Homo sapiens: one gene and its partners. The protein of the gene in region 2 interacts with the protein of the main gene of each other region in a pairwise test. Each region holds a gene or a part of one and is shown on either strand. Other genes may lie near its edges. The genes, in order: A2M, RNF112, PARK7 and ELAVL4.

Evidence for each region.
Region 1: the proteins of RNF112 (region 2) and A2M interact in binary tests that used the Homo sapiens proteins (3 or more experiments, as listed by UniProt).
Region 3: the proteins of RNF112 (region 2) and PARK7 interact in binary tests that used the Homo sapiens proteins (3 or more experiments, as listed by UniProt).
Region 4: the proteins of RNF112 (region 2) and ELAVL4 interact in binary tests that used the Homo sapiens proteins (3 or more experiments, as listed by UniProt).

What each region holds. Positions count from the first base shown.
Region 1 is NC_000012.12:9,067,177-9,070,922, forward strand, and holds the end of A2M (alpha-2-macroglobulin isoform a precursor), read right to left. Parts: intron 3,403-3,746; coding exon 3,312-3,402; intron 2,638-3,311; coding exon 2,569-2,637; intron 1,667-2,568; coding exon 1,564-1,666; intron 1,049-1,563; coding exon 1,007-1,048; coding exon of another isoform or gene 876-1,006; exon of another isoform or gene 664-875; coding exon 647-663; 3' UTR 532-646; downstream 1-531. UniProt on the Homo sapiens protein: Is able to inhibit all four classes of proteinases by a unique 'trapping' mechanism. This protein has a peptide stretch, called the 'bait region' which contains specific cleavage sites for different proteinases.
Region 2 is NC_000017.11:19,407,368-19,414,254, forward strand, and holds the start of RNF112 (RING finger protein 112), read left to right. Parts: upstream 1-3,864; 5' UTR 3,865-4,041; coding exon 4,042-4,095; intron 4,096-4,103; exon of another isoform or gene 4,104-4,132; intron 4,133-4,262; coding exon 4,263-4,303; intron 4,304-5,130; coding exon 5,131-5,416; intron 5,417-5,570; coding exon 5,571-5,777; intron 5,778-5,912; coding exon 5,913-6,044; intron 6,045-6,209; coding exon 6,210-6,314; intron 6,315-6,727; coding exon 6,728-6,778; intron 6,779-6,887. UniProt on the Homo sapiens protein: E3 ubiquitin-protein ligase that plays an important role in neuronal differentiation, including neurogenesis and gliogenesis, during brain development.
Region 3 is NC_000001.11:7,971,687-7,978,720, reverse strand, and holds part of PARK7 (Parkinson disease protein 7), read right to left. Parts: intron 1,070-7,034; coding exon 983-1,069; intron 1-982. UniProt on the Homo sapiens protein: Multifunctional protein with controversial molecular function which plays an important role in cell protection against oxidative stress and cell death acting as oxidative stress sensor and redox-sensitive chaperone and protease.
Region 4 is NC_000001.11:50,104,315-50,111,951, reverse strand, and holds the start of ELAVL4 (ELAV-like protein 4), read right to left. Parts: upstream 3,033-7,637; 5' UTR 2,763-3,032; coding exon 2,754-2,762; intron 2,120-2,753; exon of another isoform or gene 2,012-2,119; coding exon of another isoform or gene 1,988-2,011; intron 1-1,987. UniProt on the Homo sapiens protein: RNA-binding protein that is involved in the post-transcriptional regulation of mRNAs. Plays a role in the regulation of mRNA stability, alternative splicing and translation.

The DNA of each region.
Region 1 (3,746 bases), on a different chromosome or scaffold from region 2:
ACACATTCCTTCTTCTGAGAAAACGTGCTTCTGCATGAATCCTCCCTTCATTATTTTCAGCTCATCTATTATTGAATCTGAAACCCCAGGTTAACTGACTGATCACTCTCATCAGTGGCAGATTTTGGTGTAACATAGGACACATCACTCCCAATTCAGGTCAAGTCCCAATTATCTTGCCTCTCAATATGACATGTTCAATGTTGTATTTCATTCTACTTCATTTTAATGTAAAAAGTCTTTTCTGGTGAAGTCAGTCTTTTATTTTCTCATAAAAATTCACCCTTTGGGTTTTTCATAGGGTATTCCCATAACCAAACACACTTTACACTTTCCTAGTACATAACCCAATACTTTCTTCTTTCCCCACAGTCCTTACATGAAGCCTACTCAGACCGACATCACTGTATCATTTTTTTGTATTCTGAAGTCCTTCAGCACTTGATTCCTTTAAGTTTAATCTTGGTATTCTATTGGGAATCATATGGAAATGTACAATGATATTTATTGAATGAACAGGAAACAGGGAAAGACATTGACCAGAAAAAGTGTTTATTCATCAAGTCTTTAAAGATACAAAAACACGTGTCTTCTGTGGAGCTCTGAGAACAGGACTCCAGCAAAGCACTTTTCAGCCTTGTGGTCTTCAAGCATTTCCAAGATCTGTGACATTGGAAAGAAAAAAAATTAAGACAGATTTGGGTCTCCATGAGCAGAGAGTATTCTTTCCCTTAGTTCTGGGTAGCATAGTGCCCAAGGAAACCTAATCAGTACAGTGGGAAACCAAATCTATTCCAAATCATTACCCATAAGCAATCCTATGGACTCTCTGAGGTTTGACAGAGTCAGCGGCCCTCTCCAATAAATGTGTTTTTCTATAATAATGTGCAGTGTGAGTAATTTGATGTTTTTGACAAATATTTACCCAGCGTTTTATGAAGGAGAAGGTTTGGGGGGCAAGCTGAAGGAGCTCTGACTGCCTTTTGGAGGAGTGTGAGTGGCTTACCTTTGCTGCAAGGAGCATTGTACTCAGCAATTGCAAACTCATCTGAAAAAAAAAAAACCAACAAAAAACCAGAAATCATTACATGAAGTGAGAAAGAAAGCAAACATCTGTGGGATACAGGCCAAGGAAGGAGTTTGTTGTGGGAAGAACAGTATTGTACCAGAAACATAAGCATCATTCATCTGATGTGTTGCTTGCTACCTTATATTCTCCTTTCAAATATAGTGTTTTATATATTCTTTTATCCCAAACTCCTGAAGGACTCTTCAGATGTTCTACTTACTTAAATCTCATATTGTCATACAGTCCATTTATCTGATGAAAAGGGAACTAAATATCCCACAGGTGTTTTGTATTAGTAGTTGATAAATTTATAATGTAGGTTGTTTCTATAATGTATGTATAAGAGACAAAAAGAGGGGCATCAGACTTGATGGAGACAAAATGAAGTGATAATGTAATTACTTAATGTAATAAATAACCCCAACACATCTCCTAAACCTGAATTTCTGTGATCAGGAATTAAATATTTCTACGTGAAAATCACTCTCACTCACCCGTCTCGTAGTAATCATAGACTTTCACTATGGCTGGTTTCAGATCTCTTACTGGGACATCTTGCAGAACCGTGAAGAACAAGCTCAGTGTCTGATTTGACACCTGGAAAGCAAAAGTCAATTAAATGACCTTTCAGGAAGCTTTCTTCTCTCTTTGAATTAGTTTAAGTATTCACCTGTTTTTTGGGGGAAAAGCTTTATTATCCTACAGCACACTATAGGGTCCTTAATTAAATTGTGCAGAAATCTCTCAGAGGGGATGATAAATTCTCCAGATTATTTCTTAAATAACTAACATAACGCATATACCTCTGTCAATGCCAATACATAGCTCTGTTCATGGGGGTAAATGATATATACTTTTTATTGGATGACTAACTGTGTTCATTTTTTAATATCCAGAGATTTGGTATAGTTTGACTTCTCTGTCTTGCAGGAATACTTGCGTAGACTCAAAGAGGCATCTAAAAGGTTGATCTTCCCAGGCTTAAGTTTCATAAAATTTGTAAACTATAATTCCCATCAACTTATGCATGAACAAACTCTCCTACCACACATATCTATAAAATCAGATTGGTTTACTGGTGAACTGGTCTTATTATTTTATGGTTCAAGTCCTTGTGGAGACTGACAGTTTTTTTTCCCTTTCATATTGTTGTTGAGTATGTTGATAATTAACTAATAATTGACTAATCACAAGGGCTACTTCCTTATATTACTGGGTATCCAAAAAACTTGTCAACATAATAAACACATTTTGTGAAGATTTCTTGCTTATGGGATTTTAGGAATATTCATATCCCAAGATCATAATAAGCCATTTCTACCTGTAATCCCTGGTGAAATATAAATAAAGGAGAGAAGAACATTCTTTTAGAGTTAACATTAGAATTCTCAAATTTCTAGCATGGAAGTGATGTTTCTAAAATGCATTTACCTTCCCAGATGTTCCCTTAGAGGATTATTATCTACGTTTTTTTGCAAATAGACTGGAAGTTCTCTTACCTTATCAAGGTAAATCAAGACATGGTTGCTGCTGACTTCTGTCCGGCTCACATGGTTAGATCTTTCAAGCTGAAGAAAATTGAAATACCACAAATGTTAATAAATAGATGAAACCCCTGGGGGATCCAGAGAAAAAATCTTTGTATTGCCAAAATAACCCTGAGGGTAGAATTCTTCAAATGCTTTTTGTAAGGAAATATATAATGTAATACAATTAAAAATGAAAGGCATAAAGGGTTTACTATTAGTATAACACACGACTAATGTGTAAAGTTATTTATCTGAAGAAAAGACAGCTAAGTATCCTAAACTTGGTAGTTACTCATATTTCAAAGTTCAATTCAGTTTCTATTTCTTCATAAGGAGTTTTTTTCCTGTTTTGCTTGCTCTATTTTTCTTTTAACTTCTGTAATACTTATAGTTTATGCCAATCAGTCATTTTCATATTTTTCACTGGTTCGTGTTCATATCTTTTATCTTCTTAGCAAAATTCTAAGCTAAGAAGAAATTGAAAAGCAGGAACCTGCTGACAATCTTTTTCTTGTAGTCATGGGTCCTAGCACAGTGCTCTGCACATGGTCAGCATTCATACAAACACATGTGATTATATTTCTGAGCTGGAAAAAGGATAAGGCTTTGATAGAGATTGACTTTAATAGTATTTTGATATTAGTATTGTCTTATGCTGGGGATACATACATCATTAAATAAAATAGGGCAGTCTGGGGTTATGATAAACCTACCATTTTCACTGTTGGCTTCAGGGGAATGAAGCCAGAGACCATCTTCACATCAACGATCGCCATGTTGGAGGCAGAGCGGCTCCCTGTGTAACTGAGGATCCAGGGGAGGAAAGGATTAGGGTTTTCTGTGTTTTTAAATATTTTCTTCTTCTATGTCCATGTTAAGCATTCCACAGCTCTAAAAGGTACACGTAAGTCTTCCCAAATATCTTATCCCAGTGGTTTGTAAAAGTGGTGTGCGTAGAATTTTTAGGAAGCCTGTTAAAGCCACAGAGACCAGGCCCTACTCTAGACCTGATGAATCAGAATGTCTAGTGTATGGGGGCTGAGGATCTGCATTTTTTTTTTTTGATGGAGTTTTTCACTCTTCTTGCCCAGGCTGGAGTGCAATGGCATGATTTCGGCTCACCGCAACCTCCGCCTCCTGGGTTCAAG
Region 2 (6,887 bases):
TAACTCGAGCTGGGTTTACCAGCTAACATCATGTAAGGGGTACTGGGACATTAAACTAAGTGGGTGTTACTTTTGATTTTGAAATTTTCTTTTTGTGGTTTGGAGAGTCTCATTTTTCCATTAGGTTTCAAACATTCTCATAGACCGTAGACTCAAGAGACTCATGGAGCATAATGGATAAAGCGGGGCTGCCCATAGACATGGACCCAGGACCACCACACCTGGCCTCCCTGGGCCAGGGGTTCCCCTTGGGGCCCTAGATAGCATCAGAGGCCTCTGGCTGCAAAGGAGCAGGGCCCATCCTTTATCCCATCCTTTATCCAGGAGCAGGCCTGGTGTTCCTCCCGTCTCCTATCCACCTGGTCGGCCTGTACCGTGCCTTGGGGAATGCCCTCTTTTAGGTGCCCGGGTATGATCCCAAGTGGATCTGTATTTCCACTTGTGGCCTTGACTTCCCCAGCAGCACCCTCAGCCTCCCCGCTTGCCCCTCTAGTCTGTTGTCCATACAGCAGCCAGAGTGGGAGGGGCCAGCTTCCCAGGTATGCATCCAGTGCAGCCACTCAAGGCGAGAGCTCAGAAGGGCTGTGTGCTTGGGCTTCAGTGCTCTGGTCACCATCTTGAAACAATCATTTTAGCATTGAATTTGTGCTTTGTGAGTGAAGTCTGATGGGAAAATGGCGCCTTCACTGGGAATTCGGAAGCTGGTTTGTGTGTGTCCCATGTCCCACTGCCTCCCCAGCACAGGCTCTTGGCTGCCCACTCCCAGGCTCCCAGTGTCCCCACCTCTGCCCCACCATGGCTGCCCCCCTTCATCTGGAGGCCTGAATGCAGGCTCAAGGAGGACTGGGGACTGCTGGATTGGCCCCTGGCATCTTAGGGTGTGACAGAGTGGTGGCTCTCCCCTCCCTGGGCTGAAACTTAGCATAGGCTTCTCCCCGACCCCCAATCCAGGTATTGAGCGTGTCCTAAAATGACTGTGGCAATCTGGAGGGGCTGCCTGTTGGCCATGTGTGGAGGCAATGTGCCATTAGAAGAGGCAATGGACTTTCTTGCCTCTGGTGGGGGCTTTGCAGTTACATTTTTCACCAAATCCACAAATTGTATAGCTAGCCTGGCCAGGCACCATGGCTTATGCCTGTAATCCTAGGACTTTGGGAGGCCGAGATAAGCAGATCACTTTGAGCTCAGGAGTTTAAGAACAGCCTGGGCAACATGATGAAACCCCGTCTCTACAAAAAAATACAAAAAGTATCTGGGCATGGTGGTGTGCACCTGGGGTCCCAGCTACTGGAGAGGCTGAGTCTGGAGAATTGCTTGAACCCAGGAGGCAGAGGTTGCAGTGAGCTGAGATCACACCACTGTACTCCAGCCTGGGTGACAGAGTAAAACCCTATCTCAACAACAACAACAACAACAACAAAATTGGCCAGGCGTGGTGGCTGACACCTGTAATCCCAGCACTTTGGGAGGCCAAGGCAGGCAGATCACCTGAGGTCGGGAGTTCAAGACCAGCCTAACTAACATGGAGAAACCCCGTCTCTACTAAAAATTCAAAAATTAGCCAGATGTCATGGCACATGCCTCTAATCCCAGCTACTCAGGAGGCTGAGGCAGGAGAATCGCGTGAACCTGGGAGGCGGAGGTTGCAGTGAGCCGAGATCATGCCATTGCACTCCAGCCTGAGCAAGAGCGAAACTCCATCTCAAATAATAATAATAATAACAATAATTAATAAATAAAATTATATAGCCAGCCCTAAGAGTGAGGCTTCTACCATACATGTTTGCCCTGCGGGATCCCTCCTGAGATACTGACTGGTGAAGTCCCTATCCCCTCCTTTGGCCCCTGAGGGCCTGCATGACCCAGGCCTGCTCTGCCCTTCACCTTGGTGCACCCATCTTTGCATCAAATATTCCTGCCAGGCCAGCCGGACCTCCTTTGTTCCCCAGAATGGGTTCTGTGTCCCCTCTCCTCTGGGCCCTGTACCTGTGGTTTGCCCTGCCTTGACAACCTTTTTCTACCTCCTTGCTTATCAGGACAGCCTGACACCCCTCCTCACCCTCCCCGCATCCAGGTTCTCACCCAGATCATAGCAATGCCTTTTAATTGTCCAGTTGGGATCTTGGGGAGGATGGAGCTTTGTCTCTCTTGTTTCCAGCTGTACTGCAGTGTGAGACACAGTACCTGGTGCTCAGTAAGTATCATTAAGTGAAGACTGATTGTCCCATCTGCTTCCTCACATCTTTGCCTGGTGATGAGCAAATGGAAGCTCAGAGAGGGCAGTGACTCACCAGCATTTCATGCTGGGATGGAGGCAGGTTTAGAGCTTGAATCTGAGTCCAGCGCCCACGCTTTCTCTCCTGCAAGGATGAAAGGCTACAGGGGTTGAGAAAACCCTCCCTTCTGCCCTGAAGGCAGAGCTGTGGCACGGCTCAGGCTTGCTTCCTCATCCCCTGAGTGTGAGGCTTTGCTGCCAACACACAGGGGCTTGTCCCACCTGGGGCAGGAGGAGGCAGAGTCTATGGCACTGCTTCTCTGAATCTGATTGATTCAGCCCCACAATCTCAGGCCCTCCAGACACCAAAATGAACAAGATCCAGCCCCAGCTTCAGGGGTGTCTCCACCTGCTGAAGGTGGTCTCTGCTGAACTTTTCTAGGTTCTGAATCCCACCTCACCCCAACCCTTCTGCATCCTAGCTCATAGGATGTACGAATGACTCCCGTGCCTGGACTAGTGGCTTTACATAGGTAATGGTGGCTCCTCAGAGCACAGAGAGGTGCAGTGGAGTCCCAGAGCCCCTGAGCCGAGAATCAAGCCCAGATCTGCCTGGCTCTGAAGCCTGGGCTGCGCCAAGCCTATCACATATCCCAGCCCTCAACTGTCCAAGAACAAGACCGCACCCAGTTGGGAGGGGTGAGGAAAGGAGGCTCTAGGGAGGCCACAGCACCTGCACTGGGCCTAAGAGGGTGTCCCAGGAGGGATGAGAAGGAGCAGAGCAGCCAAGCCAGGGTGCAGAGGCAGGGAAGAGTGGGGCGAGAGAAGGGTGGAAGGAAGGTTCAGCCCAGTCCGCAGGCCGGAGAGTTTGGATTTTGATCTGATGGTAGTAGGGAGACACAAAAGGTGTTTGCGCAGTGTGAGGTCATCTGTGCTTGGGGAGCCTATGCTGGCTGTGCACTGGGGAGTGGAAGGGAGGCAAGGAGCCCAGTCAAGAGGCCATTAGAAGGTCCAGAGGTGGCTCATAGTTTTGATAGATTTCATCCTGCTCAAGTTTGAGGCAGAGTGAAAGCTATTGGGAGGGAAATACACCAGAGGACACGGAGGGCCCATGAGTGCTGAAGAAGGCTGCAGCTGGGTTGGGCGTCGATGACATAAACCTGAGAGAGAGCAGGAGGATGTGCAGGGCCATGTGAAGTAGGGTCTGCATTTGGGGGCTCTGTACATAGTAGGTACTCAGTAACTGTTCATTGGATGAATGGATGAATAACTCCTTGTCTCTGGGTCAGCTCTGGTCTTACCCTCTCCTGTTTCTCACACCTCTTCTCTTTGCCCACCCTGTCCTGTGGCCCTGGGGAGACCTCAGCTGGCCCAGTAGAGGCAGTGCTGGCCCATGGTTCTGCCGGAGGCGCCTCCATGTTTGCGGGTGCACCGCACGCCTTCTCCCTCTCTGTCCCCCTCCCCCTCCCTGTCCTTATCTTTCCCTTCTGTCTCCATGGCGACTCACCACCTCGGCTTGCCTGCATCCCAGCCTCTGCCAGGGATTCTGAGCCGGGCTCCATCCCTCCCTCCTCGGAGCCCTGCTACCCGCAGCCGTGTCTCCTCCCCCTGGGGTGAGTCCAGCAGCAGCCTCCTCTTTCCTGACTGTCACATTTCTTTTCCAGCTCTGACCGGGAGTCAGCTCCTCGGGGATACCATCCCCCGACCTCACCTTCTACCTACCGCAGCCTGCTAGCCTTTCCGGGAGAAAAGGCATCCTTACCTCTGGTTGAAGGTCTCGGGGCCTCCCCCTCTGCATCCGGACCCTCTCCCCATCCCAGCCTCCCATGCCAAGGCCCGCCTTGTCAGTCACTTCCTTTTGTCATCGGCTTGGCAAACGGGCAAGTCTTCAGTCCTAAGATCGGGAAGGAGAGTGGGGTGGGAAGGGCCCTCCTTGGGCTGGGGGATGGGCCGGGGGTGGGGAGGATGAGGGGTCCCTGGAAATCCAGGGTGAAGATAGAAGTCTGGATTATGTTCTAAATCTTTTTTTTTTTTTTTTTTCTCCAAGGAGAGAAAACAGAGCTTCATGGGAAACAGCGGCAACAGTTGGTAAGTAGCAGGGCCTTCCAGGCTGGGATGGGTGCAGTGAGGCCAGGCAGGTCAGTTGAAATGGCCGGTCCTGGAACACAGAGCCCGGCAGCCCAGCCGGGAGGGCTGTCCGCCTGAGGCTGGATCCGCCAGGCTGTGGAGGGAGGGACAGGAAGAAGCAGGTGGGTGCTGCAGGGAGGCAGATGCCAGCTCAGAGCAGAGAGCGGAAGGAATCTTCTAAGATCCAGAGCCATCTGCCCAACTGCAGCACAGGCTGATGGCTTCTCCTCACTGTCCCTGTAGCATGGGGTTGTGGAGGGTATCATCCCTGGGGGCCTGGCTGAAGTCAGCACCTCATGGAGGGAGCCCCGCTGTAGAACGCCGGGAGAGGCTCTTCCCAAGCATTTGCACCAGGCACTGTGCAGACAGCTGCACACGCCTCCTCTCGGATGGCCACCCCAACGGCCCCATGAGGGGTATTGCTATCCTCTCCATTGGGACAGTTAGGAAATTGAGGCCCAGAGAGGGGAAGGAACTTGCTTGCATTTGCATGGCTGGGATGTGGTGGAGTCCATTCCACTCAGATTTTCTCCCTCTCAGACTCTCTCACCATTGCTCTGCTGCCCCCACTCTGAGGCCCCCAGGTCCTAGGACACATGTCAGTGAGGAACGGGCAGAGCTTGGCCTCTCTGGGAGCAGCTCCGCCTGTCCATGGAGGCACTGATGGAAATTGGGTTGGCACAAAGGGACCTCCACTCCCAAGCCATCAGTCTTCCACCACAACCCTGGCCGGTACCCCCTGCCCCCAATAGACATCCTGCTTTTCAATGGCCTGTTTTGCCCCACAGGTCCCATACACCTTTCCCCAAGTTGGAGCTAGGCCTGGGGCCCCAGCCCATGGCGCCCCGGGAGCTCCCTACCTGCTCCATCTGCCTGGAGAGGTTGCGCGACCCCATCTCGCTGGACTGTGGCCACGACTTCTGCATACGGTGCTTCAGCACACACCGTCTCCCGGGCTGTGAGCCGCCCTGCTGTCCTGAGTGCCGGAAGATATGCAAGCAGAAGAGGGGCCTCCGGAGCCTGGGCGAGAAGATGAAGCTCCTGCCGCAGCGGCCGCTGCCCCCTGCACTGCAGGTCTGGGGACTGGGCCTAATCAGTCAGACCCAAGAGGAGGGGGTGGCTTTGGCCCTATTCTAGAACATCAGGACACAGAGCTCCAGGCTGAACACATTCCAGGGTCAGGAGCTGGTCCTGGATGCTCAGGGGCCCCTCTCTTCTCCTGGCCCAGGAGACGTGTCCTGTGAGGGCGGAGCCGCTGCTGCTGGTTCGCATCAATGCCTCTGGGGGCCTCATCCTTAGGATGGGGGCCATCAACCGCTGCCTGAAGCACCCTCTGGCCAGGGACACCCCAGTCTGCCTCCTCGCTGTCCTGGGGGAGCAGCACTCAGGGAAGTCCTTCCTCCTCAACCATTTGCTTCAGGGCTTGCCGGGCCTGGTGAGGGCGGGGCGGGGCAGGAGGGAGGCGGGGAGCAAGGATGGGGGTTCCTGCCTGGGGGAAGCTGGGTCTGGTATTCCGGTCTGTGGGGACAAGGAACCGACCAACTGATGCTCTCCCTTCTCTCCCCTGCAGGAGTCTGGTGAGGGCGGCCGGCCAAGAGGAGGAGAGGCATCCCTGCAGGGCTGCAGGTGGGGCGCCAATGGCCTCGCCAGGGGCATATGGATGTGGAGCCACCCCTTCTTGCTGGGGAAAGAAGGGAAGAAGGTGAGGGGGGAAGTGGCAGAAGGAGGTCAGGGATGGGAAGGGGAATCAAGAAGGGCGTCTCTGGGGTGAGGATAGAAGATGGGGATGGGACGGGGCAGGGTTGGGAAGAATGTGGGAGAACAAGGCAGGCCTGGCCCCTTGGGTCTTTCCCTACCCCCTGCATAGGTGGCGGTGTTCCTGGTGGACACAGGGGATGCCATGAGCCCTGAGCTGAGCAGGGAAACAAGGATCAAGCTCTGTGCTCTCACCACGATGCTGAGCTCCTACCAGGTGATGGGGGGCGCTGATGTTGGCATCCCCACCCCACACACCCTTCTCCAGCTCAGCTTCCTCAAGGCCAGAGCATCTCACAGGCTTTGGTGTCTGGGGTCCTGATAGGTTCTGGGGCTGCCTTAGAAGGGGGAAGGTGCTCCTAGTTGGTGAAGGTGGGAACGTGGGTTATTCCTAAAAGTGGGCTGATGGTCCCAGGGGCAGCTGAAGACCTGATGGATCACATTACCCTCCAGGCTTGTCTCCGGCCTTGAGGCCAGCCCAGCCCTGCAGCCTTCGAGGCCCCCATACTGGCCTCTCCCATACTCTGAGGCCCACAGGCTGCCTGCGAGCTCCCTACTCACCAGGGCCTTCCCCAGTGAAGTCACCCGGCCTCTGTAATCTCTCATACATGTTGTTCTCTCTGATTCCAGATCCTCAGCACCTCCCAGGAGCTGAAGGATACAGACCTGGACTATCTGGAGGTAAAGAGACCTCTGATGTTGGGGCATCCCCCACCCCCACCCTCCCCACTAGGGCTGGACCCAAAGGAACTAGGTGCCCTCCTGGTCTGGCCTAGGGTTTTATGACACT
Region 3 (7,034 bases), on a different chromosome or scaffold from region 2:
GTGTGCATCACCATGCCTGGCTAATGTTTTTTGTATTTTTAGTAGAGATGGAGTTTAACCATGTTGCCCAGGCTGGTCTCGAACTCGGGGCTCAAGCGATCCACCCGCCTCAGCCTCCCAAAGTACTGGGATTACAGGCGGAAGCCACTGTGCCCAGTCTACAAGAAACTTGTGGTGGCACATGCCTGTAATCCCAGCTACTCGGGAGGCTGAGACAGGAGAGTCCCTTGAACCCGGGAGGCGGAGGTTGCAGTGAGCTGAGATCACACCACTGCATTCCAGCCTGGGCAACAGAGCGAGAGACTCCATCTCAAAAAAAAAAAAAAAACCACACACAGGCATATGGGCCAGGCGCGGTGGCTAACACCTGTAATCCCAGCACTCTGGGAGGCTGAGGCAGGCAGATCACAAGGTCAAGAGTTCGAGACTGGGCGCGGTGGCTCATGCCTGTAATCCCAGCACTTTCAGAGGCTGAGGCGGGTGGATCACAAGGTCAGAAGTTCAAGACCAGCATGACCAACATGGAGAAACCCCATCTCTACTAAAAAATACAAAAATTAGCCAGGCGTGGTGGAGCACACCTGTGATCCCAGCTACTCAGGAGGCTGAGGCAGAAGAATCACTTGAACCCGGGAGGCGGAAGTTGCAGTGAGCAGAGAACGCACCATGGCACTCCAGCCTGGGCAACAGAGCGAGACTCTGTCTCAAAAAAAAAAAAAAAAAAAAAAAAAAAAAGAGTTTGAGACCAGCCTGACCAACATGGTGAAACTCCATCTCTACTAAAAATACAAAAATTAGCTGGGTGTGATGGCATGCGCCTGTAATCCCAGCTACTCAGGAGGCTGAGAGAGAAGAATCGCTTGAACCCGGGAGGCAGGGATTGCAGTAAGCCAAGATCACGCCACTGCACTCCAGCCTGGGCGATGGAGCGAGACTCCATCTCAAAAAACAAACAAACAAACAAAAACAAGCATATACTTACCTCCATTCATCATTTTGTCTTTAGCAAGAGGGTGTGTTGTAACTTTACTTCCAAAACCTATTTCATGAGCCAACAGAGCAGTAGGACCTAAGAATAAAAATAAAAAGATCTAAGTGCAGATATAGAAAAGCCCATGTTTAAAAAATCGCAATAGTGCCTGGCACAGTGGCTCATGCCTGTAATCCCAGCAATTGGGGAGGCCTAGGTAGAAAAATTGCTTGAGCCCAGGAATTCAACATCAGCCTGGGCAACACAGACCCCTTCTCTAACAACAACAAAAACTGCAACAGCAAAGTATTCTTCAAAATCAAGAGGCTCTTACCAAACATACAGCTACGATTCTGAAATGAAACACTTCCTAGTATGAGAGATAAAGTATGTTTATAACAAACGATTTGCTGAGCACATCTGGCAAAAGCACAGAAACTCAAAATACTTCAATAACCATTTACTCAAGAAGATTTACCTTGATACCAGCAGAGCATACACAGATAAACAAAATGTGCTCACCTCTCTCACCTTCCCCATCCCCAGAACAGGGACCACATATACCAGGAGTCCAAAGGAGGGGGAGGATCACTGGGGCGGGCTCAACTTCTTACCTCACTCTTAGTAAAAGGAAAGATTTAGTTACATGCTAAAGGCAACTGGTACTCTCTGAACTTCTGGATTTTATTGCTCTTTTGTAATCTTATTTTCTACTTGAAAATGGGAAATTAGGCCGGGCACGGTGGCTCATGCCTGTATTCCCAGCACTTTGGGAGGCCAAGGCGGCTGGATCATGAGGTCAGGAGATCAAGACCATCCTGGCTAACACGCTGGAACCCTGTCTCTACTAAAAATACAAAAAATTAGCTGTGCGTGGTGGCGGGCGCCTGTAGTCCCAGCTACTCGGGAGGCTGAGGCAGGAGAATGGGGTGAACCCGGGAGGCAGAGCTTTCAGTGAGCCAAGATCGTGCCACTGCACTCCAGCCTGGGCGACAGAGCGAGACTCTGTCTCAAAATAAATAAAAAATAAATAAATAAAATGGGAAATTAACACTCGTTCATCCACCTATCCACCCAAGTATGCCAGGTGGTAGGATTAAAATGGACAGCACACTGTCCTTGAAGGAGATAGCCTGTGAAGTGCCTGGAAGTGTGAGATATAAAGGCACTAGCATCACGTGATGAAAGCTACTTAAGCAAAGAACCACATGGAAGTGTCAGTTGATGAAGTCTTTCCAAATTGGCAGGTCCTAACTTGAGATTTTTATTTAAATGTATTCACTGAAAACGGCCAACTTCAGGGAGGGTCACAAGCATATTGCGTATGTAATGGTCCTAAATAAGGATTAAAAACAAAGATTTTATATACCTTTCATTGTTATTTCATCTTAAAGCTTTTTACAAAGTATTCATTCTACCTTTTTCCTCTAAGCCACACATATAAACATTCTTTCTAAGGCCTCACATGACACTTAGAAGGATACGTTTCAGAACAGCACCTTGATCTTGGAAACACTTAAGGTGCCCTGGATGGCTAAGATCCTGTGGCACAGTTTGTACACTTTTAGTGTCAGCAAACCTGAGAGGTCTTGGTCTTACTGTCCTTTCATTTTTCAACAAGACTCCAAGGAAGGAATTATATAATATACCCACAAGCTACTCAGACCGTAGCTGTTACAAACAGGAAGATCACACAAATACTACCTAATTACATAAGCTTTCTGCCTAATATCAGCTGTCAGTTTCAGACCAAGTCCTGATTTATAGCTCTTAAATCAAAAGCCTCAAATGTCTCTTCTCCACGTTATTTTTACACACAAGACAGCTATGTATGGTAGCAAATTTTAGAAGTCCGTAAGAATTGAATAATTATCAATTTTTATTTGAATGGATTTATAAATTGTTTTTAATTTTTATTTGGTAAGAATTTAAGAAGAAATTCCTACATCATCTTGCATTTTAAAGTAAACTTTAATAGATGATAGCACAGTGAGGAAAGTGATCGGTGAACGAGAATTTTTAGGCTGCTCCCTTCAAGGTGGTAATAAAATCACTGCTACGATGTGAATAAATTTATGTTACAGTTGGATTCAGGAATTTACTGATGTCTTTCATACTTATCAGGTAAGCTCATAATCACTGCTTTCTGGGGCGTCAGAACCCTATTTGGAATACTGGAGAAGAGACGTTTCACTCTCCCAGGACCTGGGATTCTGATGGATGAAAACGCTCTGTACTCTGCACTACAGTGCAGAGGGCGCAGCTGACCATGTCCCCTTCTGCAGCCAACAGCACCACCCTGTGGTAACATGCAAAATGACCACCTCTGCCAACTCCCCAGCTCCTCCAGGTGGCCAAGACCTTGCTTCCAGAGGCCTCATTCCTAGACCTGGGCATCTCAGCTGACAACTGTCCACTCCTCCAACTCCACACTTCCTCCCCCTCCCCTACTCAAAGTAAATATCATTTAATTTTCTTCTCAACATAGACTCCCTTCCAATTTGCGTTCCTCATTCACTCAATATTAAGGACTAGGCTAATATTCTTTGTGTTCAAAATGTTTCCAATCCCTAACTGCAACACTTCAGAATAATCTTGGCTGGGTGCGGTGGCTCACGCCTGTAATCCTAGCACTTTGGGAGGCCAAGGTGGGCGGATCACGAGATCAGGAGTTCGAGACCAGCCTGGCTAACATGGTGAAACCCCGTCTCTACCAAAAATACAAAAATTAGCTGGGCATGGTGGCAGGTGCCTGTAATTCTAGCTACTCGGGAGCCTGAGGCAGGAGAATCGCTTGAACCTGGGAGGTGGAGGTTGCAGTGAGCCGAAATTGCACCACTGCACTCCAGCTTGGGCAACAAGAGCAAAGCTCCCATTTCAACAAAAAAAAAAAAAAAAAAGAATCTTATTTTTCTGTTTGCCAATTTAAAAGATCCAAATCTCTTCCATCACTCCTCTGTTCCATTCCCATAACCCTCATCTCAATTAGCTCAGCTCATCATCACATTTTTTCCTATTTCTGGTGTAGTGCCCACAACAGTGGTGCAGGATATTCAATGGTATAAACACACTGCTAGTGTGTTTTCTATTTTTACTGTTTTTTATATAATTTTTTTTTTTTTGAGATGGAGTCTCACTCTGTCGCCCAGGCTGGAGAGCAGTGGCGCAATCTCGGCTCACTGCAAGCTCTGCCCCCCAGGTTCACACCATTCTCCTGCCTCAGCCTCCCGAGTAGCTGGGACTACAGGCACCCGCCACCACGCCTGGCTAATTTTTTGTATTTTTAGGAGAGACAGGGTTTCACCGTGTTAGCCAGGATGGTCTCGATCTCCTGACCTTGTGATCCGCACGCCTCGGCCTCCCAAAGTGCTGGGATTACAGGTGTGAGCCACCGCCCTTGGCCTATTTTTACTTTTTTTTTTTAAGAGACCAAGTCTTGCTCTGTCCTTTAGGCTCAAGTGCAGTGGTGTGATCACCACATCTCAATGTAACCTCAAATTCCTGGGCTCAAAGTGATCCTCCCACCTCAGCCTCCTGAGTAGCTGGGACTACAAGTGTGCACCACCACACCAGGCTGATTTTTTAAAATATTTTTTTGTAGAGGTCGGTGGGGGGGTCTCACTATGTTGCCCAGGCTGGTCTTGAACTCCTGGGTTCAAGTGATCCTCCCACCTCAGTCTCCCAAAGTGCTAGGATTACAGCTATGAGCCACCACAGCCAGCCTGTTTATTTTTTAATGTTGATTTAAAGTACTATAAGGCCCATGCTTCTTAGCATGGCATTCCATCTAGCCTCAGCACAAAACAGTAAGCCAAATGTGGTTGATTTTTTTTTTTTTTTTTTGAAACGAAGTCTTGCTCTGTCGCTCAGGCTGGAGTGCAGTGGCACGATCTCGGCTCACTGCAATCTCCGCCTCCCGGGTTCAAGCGATTCTCCTGCCTCAGCCTCCCAAGTAGCTAGGACGACAGGCATGCGCCACCATGCCCTGCTAATTTTTGTTATTTTTATTTTTATTATTTTATTTTATTTATTTTTTGAGACGGAGTTTCACTCTTGTTGCCCAGGCTGGAGTGCAATGGCGCAATCTTGGCTCACTGCAACCTCCACTTCCCAGGTTCAAGCGATTCTCCTGCCTCAGCCTCCCAAGCAGCTGGGATTACAGGCACGCGCCACCACGCCTGGCTAATTTCTGTATTTTTAGTAGAGATGGGGTTTCACCATGGTGGCCAGGCTGGTTTCGAACTCCTGACCTTAAGTGATTTTGCTACTTTTGTGGCACAGGACAAACTGACATGTGGTTTTTACTTTCAGCAGAATCATAAGGAAACAAACTCAGCCCAAACTCTTTCTTCCTTTGGTCAAAGAATCTAGGACTGAGGCTTGCTTCACAGCAGCAGAGCCAAAGAAAACCAAACTCAAGGATCTGTGACTTTCTCTCCAAAGAGGGGAGCAGCTGCTTGGGCTGCAGTGACTGCAGTGCCCTTTGGCAGAGATAATTACCTGAGCCTCAGGGCAGGTCAAAAGGCTAGTGGTGACTCTTGTAGTAAGCCCACGTACAAGACCTGCCAGGGTGGTCAACCTCTGTGGTTCTTCCCAGCCCCTAATGCCACGGTTCTCAAACATTTAGGTCTTAGAATCCCTTTAGCTTTTATGTGGGTTATATCTATGAACATCTGCCATATTAAAAATTATTACTTTTTTTTGAGACAGTCTTGCTGTGTCACCCAGGCTGGAGTGCAGTGGCGTAATCGCGGCTCACTGCAACCTCCGCCGCCCGGGTTCAATAGATTCTCCTGCCTCAGCCTCCTGATAGCTGGGATTACAGGAATGCATCACCATACCCAGCTAACTGCCCAGCTAACTTTTGTATTTTTAGTAGAGACGGGGTTTCACCATGTTAGCCAGGCTGGTTTCGAACTCCTGACCTCAAGTGATCCTCCCACCTCAGCCTCCCGAGTAGCTGGGATTACAGGCGTGCACCACCATGCCCAGCTAACTTTTGTATTTTTAGTAGAAACGGGATTTCACCACGTTTGCCAGGCTGGTTTTGAACTCCTGACCTCAAACGATCTGCCCACCTCAGCTTCCCAAAGTGCTGAGATTACAGGCATGCGCCACTGTGCCACGCCAATTACTTTTAATGGCAAAAACCACAATTACTTTTACATCAACCTAATAAAACTGGGAAATTTTTAAAACACAATAATAAATTCTCAGATGATGGTATCATCCTACTCTGATGTCACTCCTGAAAGACTGAGAAGAAAAAAGGCGAATAACATTTTGTTTGAAAGACATGGTGTCACTCTGCTGCCCAGGCTGGAGTGCAATCATAGCTCACTGCAGCCTCTAACTCTTGCCTTCAAGCGATCCTCCCATCTCAGCCTCCTGAGTAGCTGGGACTACATGCATGCAGTACTGTGCTTGGCTAATTTTTTGTTTGTTTGTTTGTTGAGATGGGGGTCTGGCTATGTTGCCAAGGTTAGTCTCAAACTCCTGGCTTTCAAGAGATCCTTCTGCCTTGGCCTCCCAAAATGCTGAGATTACAGGCATGAGCCACCACACCTGGCCCCTCAGTAGCATCTGCTTTGACCTTGCAAGTGCACCAAAAGAACATTGAGAACCACTGATACTCGAATGTATCAAGTCCCCAGGACCTCTGGCCCATAACTTCTTTTGAAAAGCCTACTGTATTGAACAAAATAGCAACAGCAACATGTTTTGATGTTGATGTTTACCAAACCATCCACTCATTCATTCGTTTATTCATTCACTCTTCTGACAAATATTTATTTTATTTTATTTTATTTTTTTTTTGAGACGAAGTCTCGCTCGTGTCCCCCAGGCTGGAGTGCAACGGCACAATCTCGGCTCACTGCAACCTCCGCCTCCCGGGTTCAAGCGATTCTCCTGCCTCAGCCTCCCGAGTAGCTGGGATTACAGGCGCCCGCCACCACGCCTGGCTAATTTCTGTATTTTTAGTAGAGATGGGGTTTCACCATGGTGGCCAGGCTGGTCTTGAACTCCTGACCTCAGGTGATCTGCCCGCCTCAGCCTCCCAAAG
Region 4 (7,637 bases), on a different chromosome or scaffold from region 2:
GATCATGCATCTATTTTGTCCTTTAGTAAAAAACCCTAACAGATCACCATTTCAATTGTTTTTACGCTATCTCCTGTTCACCCAAATACTACACCTTTCAATCCTTATGGTACCCACCATCATGAGAAAAAGAGACTATTAGTAAAGCACATTTAGAGAAAAAAGAGAGATGCTTGTCACCCAGTGCACACATGGGTCCCAGACGTCCAAAGACACTAATATAAAAATCAGCTTTTCACTCAGTTTGTGCCAAGACCAGAATCAGGACCAAATGCCAAATGGAAGGCAGTGGTTATGAGAGTGCAAGCCTGATGGATCCTGTGACTGTGGGCATGGGGAAAGAAGGAAAGCAAAAAGCTCTTCATTTATTATTTTGTAAAGTAATTTCTACTGAGGAAAAAAATGAGAGGTACAATGAATTCCCCTGAAACTATAGTATCAACATCCGATTTAGTAAAAATACCAAAATCACCTAACCCCAAATCATTGCTTAGGGTAGATCTATTCTACCTATATTTTTCCTATGAATATTTGCTGGAAATTTCTAAGAAATCATTTGCAGAACCTATCAGCTGTGGGAGTTCACTATTATGCTTCCGTCAACTTCATTCAATATAATTTACATTTTTTCAAATGGTCTCACAGGATTCCTTGCGATTTTTCGCATGTACAATTTCACACCAGGGAAAAGGGGGAAAAAGGAAAAAAAAAAAAGCAAGATTCCCTACCCTCCCTTCCCCCTCACCTCCTCTCTGGGTTTTTTAAACAACAACAACAACAACAAAAACCACACGCGCACACACACACGCACACACACACAAAAACAGGGGAGACAGAACAGATGCTTAAAAATAGATTTCTAAAAATCACTGTAAACCAGAGTTAGAAATGTAATTAACACCTATTAATAACGAATAATTAAAGTTGGGCTGGCCACAAAGAACAGCAAAGATAATCGAGGTCCTGTCCCCCTCCCCTTTTTTTTTACACTGTTTGCAGTGTGTTCTCATGATAGCCACCTGCTCCCTACTCGGCTTCTCCTCTGTTCGTTTCCCCGGCAACCTTTCATTGGGTTTTCCTCCCAGCTATCGCTTTCAGTTGGGCTGCTCGGTCTAATCTTATTTGTTTTACACCCATCAAAACAAGCAGCCAGACAAAGGCAATCCTCTAAGAATGGGAAAAAGACCACAGCTTTGTTATAACATCTATGCAGAGCAAAAAGTCCTCCCCAGGCTTTTCTAGGGAAAAATAAGTAAGATGGTTATGAATTTACAGCCTGCCCCCATACCCAGCTCTGAAACCTTGTGAAACCTATTGCTGGTGAAAATTCAAAGTCAAAGTGGGCACTCGTGGCATCTAATCATGCCATTTTGTGCCATATCTTCAGGGTCAACATCAGGCGACAGAAGCGGCACTCAAGGAGTTTCCCTGCTTCTTTTTTCAGAAAAAGATGATGCTAAAAATAGATTTACTACTTCGGCAGAAAGGTTTTCCACTTCCCCTTCCACATCCGAAAGTCCTGTTTCACAATTGCATCGGCTGGTACTGAATCTCACCTCCTCCACCCCTCATTCCCATCCTTCCCCATCACTCCTAGCATGAGACTGAAAAAGAAATGTGCCTTTAACTTTAGCAGTCGTGTAATTCCGTTGAAGGCTCACAGAGGCGGTGGACACGCCAGCCAACAGTGACGGTGACATTGATTGTCAAAAAAGACACCAACCTTCCTTGGCTAAAATGTGTGTTTGCTGGAAGAGGCAGTGTGTGTGCCTTGTGTGCATGCAGTGCCATTACACTTGGAGATGGATTCTGGTTTTCAGAAAAGAGAAATACTAATAAACACACACATACATACACACACAAACGATCAGCACAGTGATTTACGATGCACAGTCCAGCATCCTTACACATACACACATACAAGCACACACACACACACACACACACAGGGCTGGGACCTCCAGGCTGCCTTCCTCTTTTCACTTACCATCTTCAAGCCATTCCACTCCATCTGTGATCAGAAGAAGATGGACCCTCACACAGTGTGTCAAAAGCGGAAAGGAACGTTATGTAAAAGCTGACATTCCTTCTTACAGAGCTGCTGCCCAGAGAAGGAAGCAACAACTCAACACGCCAGGCACTGCTACACATACAAGCCGCCTCCTCTTTTTTATGAGGTCATGACAGGAAACTCTTTGAAATACAAGATGCAGCATTTACTGAAGCCCAAATAAATCACTCTCTTTGCCGTTTTGACTGCGCAGTCCCCCGAAACACAACTGCCCATCTCAGTGTTCAGTATCCAGGAGCTGCCTCTCGAGGTTTAAATTTCCAGCACGGAAATTGAGAGATTCCTAACCCCGCTGCATCCACCCCCAGCCCCACAAAACCCAGGCACGTAGACAAACCCCCTCTCCCTTACAAAAAAGAAAACCCTTCTTTTGCCATTATGTCTCAAGTAATATAACCTCTTTCAATAAACCAGCAATTATTTCAGCCCTCCCCCTCCACCCCTTGCCTTTATGTTGAAGGGAAAACTGACAACGACTTGCTAAAAATGACAATCTTATATCCCCATTGCTTTTCAATAAAAGGACCTACCCGCACTCTCTACACAAAAGAGATAGTAAATGTAGGAACCAAACAGCAGCACAGAACTAAACTCTTGTGCAAGCATAAGACTGGTCAAGGTGTAGATGCTTTTCTTCCCTCCAGCAACACAAACAACAGATTATAAATCTAGTCATACCTACCATAACCATTCTTATTGGCAAATATTGGGTCTCGCAGAGCTTCGACTCTTCTGTTAAAATTTGCAAAGATTTCAGAATATATATTTAAAATGACTACTATTGTTATATATAATTAAAGATCCACAAAACACAGTGTGGATGATTGTAAAGCAAATCAATTATTTTTGGGGGGGTGGGCGGGGGAGAGAAAGAAAAAAAAGAAAAGGAGCAGTGAGCTGAAACCCCCGATTCTAGGATGTAGATAAGAACAACTGAACAGAGCCTTGCTGAAATTGGCTCGAAGCTTCCCCTTTTTACATCCATTTATGGGACCATCTGTCAGCCGAAGCCTGGATCTGATTGGCTGGGGAAACGAAGGGAGGCGTTGCAACATCAGGTGCTATTTAAATTAGCTACTGCCAGATTGACGATGTTAATGATTTGGTGACCTCTACAACAACAGAGACCAGATTTCTGAACTGCTTCTTGTGTCTGGTAATTAAGGCCCGGCTGAAGCAACAACAGCCATACTTGTATTTTTACCTTTTCCCTCCTCCCAGCTCAAAAGTACTGTAACAACTGCAGGTCACTGGAGGCTTGCAAACCTAAACTAACAGTGGGAGGGTCCTTCTTTTCCCATCCTGAGGGCCGAACCGTGCCACCTCTCTGATGGAGGGCTTTTCCACCGTAGAATATTTTCAACCACCTTATCTTTCTAGACAGTTGCTTTCTAGCGAAATGCATATTTAATGATCTGCCTGTAGGCTTAAAGGTACAACAAAAGCACTTTAATGTGCTAATTCATCTACAATTTAACTTTATTATTTCCAGATATTGCTGATTTTTAGTAAGTAATGCTCCTTCTCCAGCTAACATGGCCAACATTTCAAAAGCAAGCAAGTTGGGGATTAAGCTTGCTCCGTGAACTAGGTTCATACAAGTTTGTCTCAGAAAACTATTTCCTAATAAACAAAAAGAAAAAAAATGGTGGGGGTAAGGGAGGGGCAGCTGTCAGCCTCTACCTTTCTGCCTTCTGTCTGAGCTTTTCAAAACTGAGGATGATGAATGATTTACTTAAATGAATTTATTTTTCAAGTTGGATAGGAACATGATCTGAATTTTTAAAAATCCACTAAAACACATTCTCCTACCCCTTTAGAGAAAGGTAAAACATGCTTTTGACAACAGCCTCATTTCAAAACCTGTGCAGAGTGTTCATTTTGCTTAACTAAATAAGTGATTTTGCTTCTCTCCTTCAAAGGGATGTCTTTTTTTCTTTGGCCTCTTAAGAGATTTGCAAAGAGACATTTAGCAAGTGTATGGTGAGGTATACAGTTTGTCTGCCTATTTACACATTTAACAACCTCTACACTACCAAGCCTTCAGTAGTGTATTTTTTGTTCTGGTTTGGGTTTTTTAAGTGGCTTACCTGAGAAGTTCATGCTTCACACCTATGCAAAAGACTAATGTGTCACTATTTATTTAACTCATAATTTAATCAATTTGTTCTTCAATAAATACACAGTGGTAACACATATTACCAAATACAAAATTCAATGTAATCTTTAATCTTTGACTAGAGTTGACAGTGAGACAGAACTAGGCAGAGTAGACATACAGACCAAAAAATAAGCTATATTTCTGGGTTTCAAAGTCCAAGAATAAATGGGTTTGTGAAAAATTATTAGGAAAGAAAATAACCTTACATTTTTCAAGATTAAAACTATTCTGTCCAAGATGCTGTTTCATGAACACACACATATAAACATACATATATATTCACACTTCAGAAAATACAGATACATCATAAAACAATATGTGTTGGGTACACTGCATAATCCATTAGACTTGAGTATGAATACGTTCAGCTATTAGAAATGAAAATACATGAAATAGAAAAGTACAAATGTTAAAACTATAATTCCTTAAGGTGGAACAATACTCAGTTAAGTAAACTTTTAAAGTAATTTCTTTAGCAAATGTATAAAATGTCCTGTGAGTCACAATAGTACTACAGTATCTGTTGAACTGTGTACTGAGGGTGAATTCACAGGTTAAAGTGTTCTAAATGGTTCAGCATATATACACAGAGTAGGTATGTGTGCCCCAAATCAACAACATAAACTCTGAGTGCAATTTCACCAATATTAAAATATTGTGAAAAGTAAACATTAAGACAATGCTGACAAACACAAATAAAAACAGCTCACTTGGAACAAAATATTTACTTAGATTTCTCTGGAGGTTATAAAAGATAAAAATTTTAAAAACCCTTTTCTCCCATCCATACTAACCTCAGTACACTTATTGAACCATAAATTAACATTAGGTATATTAAAAGGTATTCTGGCCACTTTTCCAAAATAGTAGCTGTATATACAGTATAAATAACTAGCTGGTTTTGCTAGGCTAAAAATTCATGCATTTTGTATATTGATCACTTTTCCACAAACCTCCACTTTAAAGTCTTTCAACAGAATCCTCAAACAAATGCACAAATGTCCTCAGAGGCCTTTTCTCTAAAGACAAAGGCAGAATCCTATTGTTGGGAAAAGTCAACCTTATTATCGCATTTCCAATAGTACAATTCATCTTTCAGAGTGAGGGGCTGACCGCTACATCAGTGATGTGACATTTGTAAAGCAACAGATTCTCAATATATTATCTCAAGAATCAGGCAGGCGAGTCTCCCAGTCATGCATGATTTTTTTTTTCTGCCACAATCCACCACCACAGAAAGAAACTTGTCTCACTCAAGCAGCTAAGGCAACCTAAAAATGATATCCCAGCACTGTGGGGCTGCCAGCGCCGCTGTATTCCTCTTACCATAAATGAGCAGTTTCTTGACTCATTAATGACAATTTCCCTTAAAAGAAGTAATCTCATATCAGTCAGCCCCTTGCCACCATGCACACATCCCAAAGGTTGCAGATATCTCAGCATCAGTCGCCGGCAGCCAGCTTTCCCACACAGAGTCCAGATGGACTGTACCAGAAGCCAATTCAGCGTTAATAACTACCTACTCCGCGCAGTGGAGAAGCCTTACGTGGCACAATGGGCTAGGAAACAGCAGCCGGCTGAAACTGCAAATAAAAAAAGACAACCAAATTCTCCAAAAGCACCAAAAGGAAGGAACAGAAATGGAAGCGTGAATTGTATTTCCTTGACTTCCATGAGGCGGAAAAAAAGGAATCCTTCATAAATATAGGGAAAAAAAAGAAGAGGGGGGAAAAACAGATGCTGCCCAGAAAAAAGTGACAAAATATTACCTCATTATTTAACAAAGCAGCATTAAGCGTCCTGCTGATTTCAAACATCTTGCCACAGATTTTGTTTTAAGAGAAACAGATAGAATCCTTTGCAAAGCACTCCGTCTGCAAAGGGTTCTTCAATTTTCTTGCGCACCACGGAACAGTCAATATATTATTTCCCTAGAGTTCGTACATTAAAACCTCTAGTCAGTGAGCTGAATTTTCCCCTTATCTCACACACAGTAGACTCCTGTTATATGTACTGCTCTCTTTGCAAGAGCAGCCTGCCCCAAACATGGCTGGTGTTTAAACTACTCTTTAAAGTAACAGTTCACTATATAACCACCAGGTGGGTAGAGTGCACAGATTCAAATGAACCATCTTAAAAGATTTCTTTTTTTTTTCCCCTTGGAATAGCTTTTGGGTGTAAAATGTGACATGAGAAACACTAGCATCTTAACAGGCAAGATTGTCTCTCACTATATCTTGTCAAAATAAATAAATAAAATTCCTTCTCTTGACTTAAAGCAAGGAAATGAAACAAAACAAAACAAAACACTGCCACAAATTCTAATAAGAACTGCGAAGAATGAAACACAAACAAGCTTTGTTTCATTCAGCAAAGGATGAACAAGGAAAATACAATCAACACAGAGCAATGGGGAAGGCCAAAAACCTCATGAAAATATTTCTCTTTAGCAAAAACAGAAAAATATTCACACACAGTGATGAAAACTCAAAAGTGTGCATGTGGATGAAGCACATACAAGATGGAGGCAAGAGTTTAAGGGTGCAACTTTTCTTCTGGGTAGAAATTAGGTTTATTTAATGTGGGTCTTTCCTGATAAGAAATAACTGAAAGCTTAAAAGTAAAGACACCGAAAAAAAATACAAAATATTAAGCCTCTCTTTTAAAAATACAATTATATGAATAGTGATAAACAACCACAAGAGCAAGCCAATCACATGTCTCTACCCATTGCTGTTCTTTTTCCCGAAGATCTGCCTCGAAGTGGAACATTTCTGTCGTATACTATTTTGGATGTATAGCTAACTTGGCATCTCCTTTGTATCACTCTATTCCAATTAATCTGCTCCTCTGCCAAGAATAAACAGAATGTCCCAAGTTGAAAGCTCCAAGTGATTGGGGGTATGTTAAAAGGATATAGAACCACCTGAACAAAAATAAATTACATCACTTATATTGTTATATGGCCTGATTTTAAGGAGGATCTTATTACTTATAAAGCATGCAACACCATTCTATGTTCCACATGTGTCTAAAACAGAAACCAACACACACAGATACCTGGGATTTTCTTTTCTTGGCTGGACAAAATTAAAGGTCTGGAACCTCCACATTTTCTTGCAAACACAGGTGTTGACAGTAATATTTTCCCAGCCCATCCAGGCCGTATTTAGCCATACACAATAGTGACTATGTCCTTCATCTTTAAGTCAAGACGGCATCACTTAATACCATTTAACCTCCTTGCATATATTAAGTTTCAAGTGACAATTTTTAACTGGGGAGTGAGAAGGAGGAGTTGCTCTCATCAAATTCTGGTTGTATGAAATAAGCTAATTTGTACACTCACCATATGTCTTAAACACTAATTAAAAAATGTCACTTTCTTCAAACATTAAAATGTAA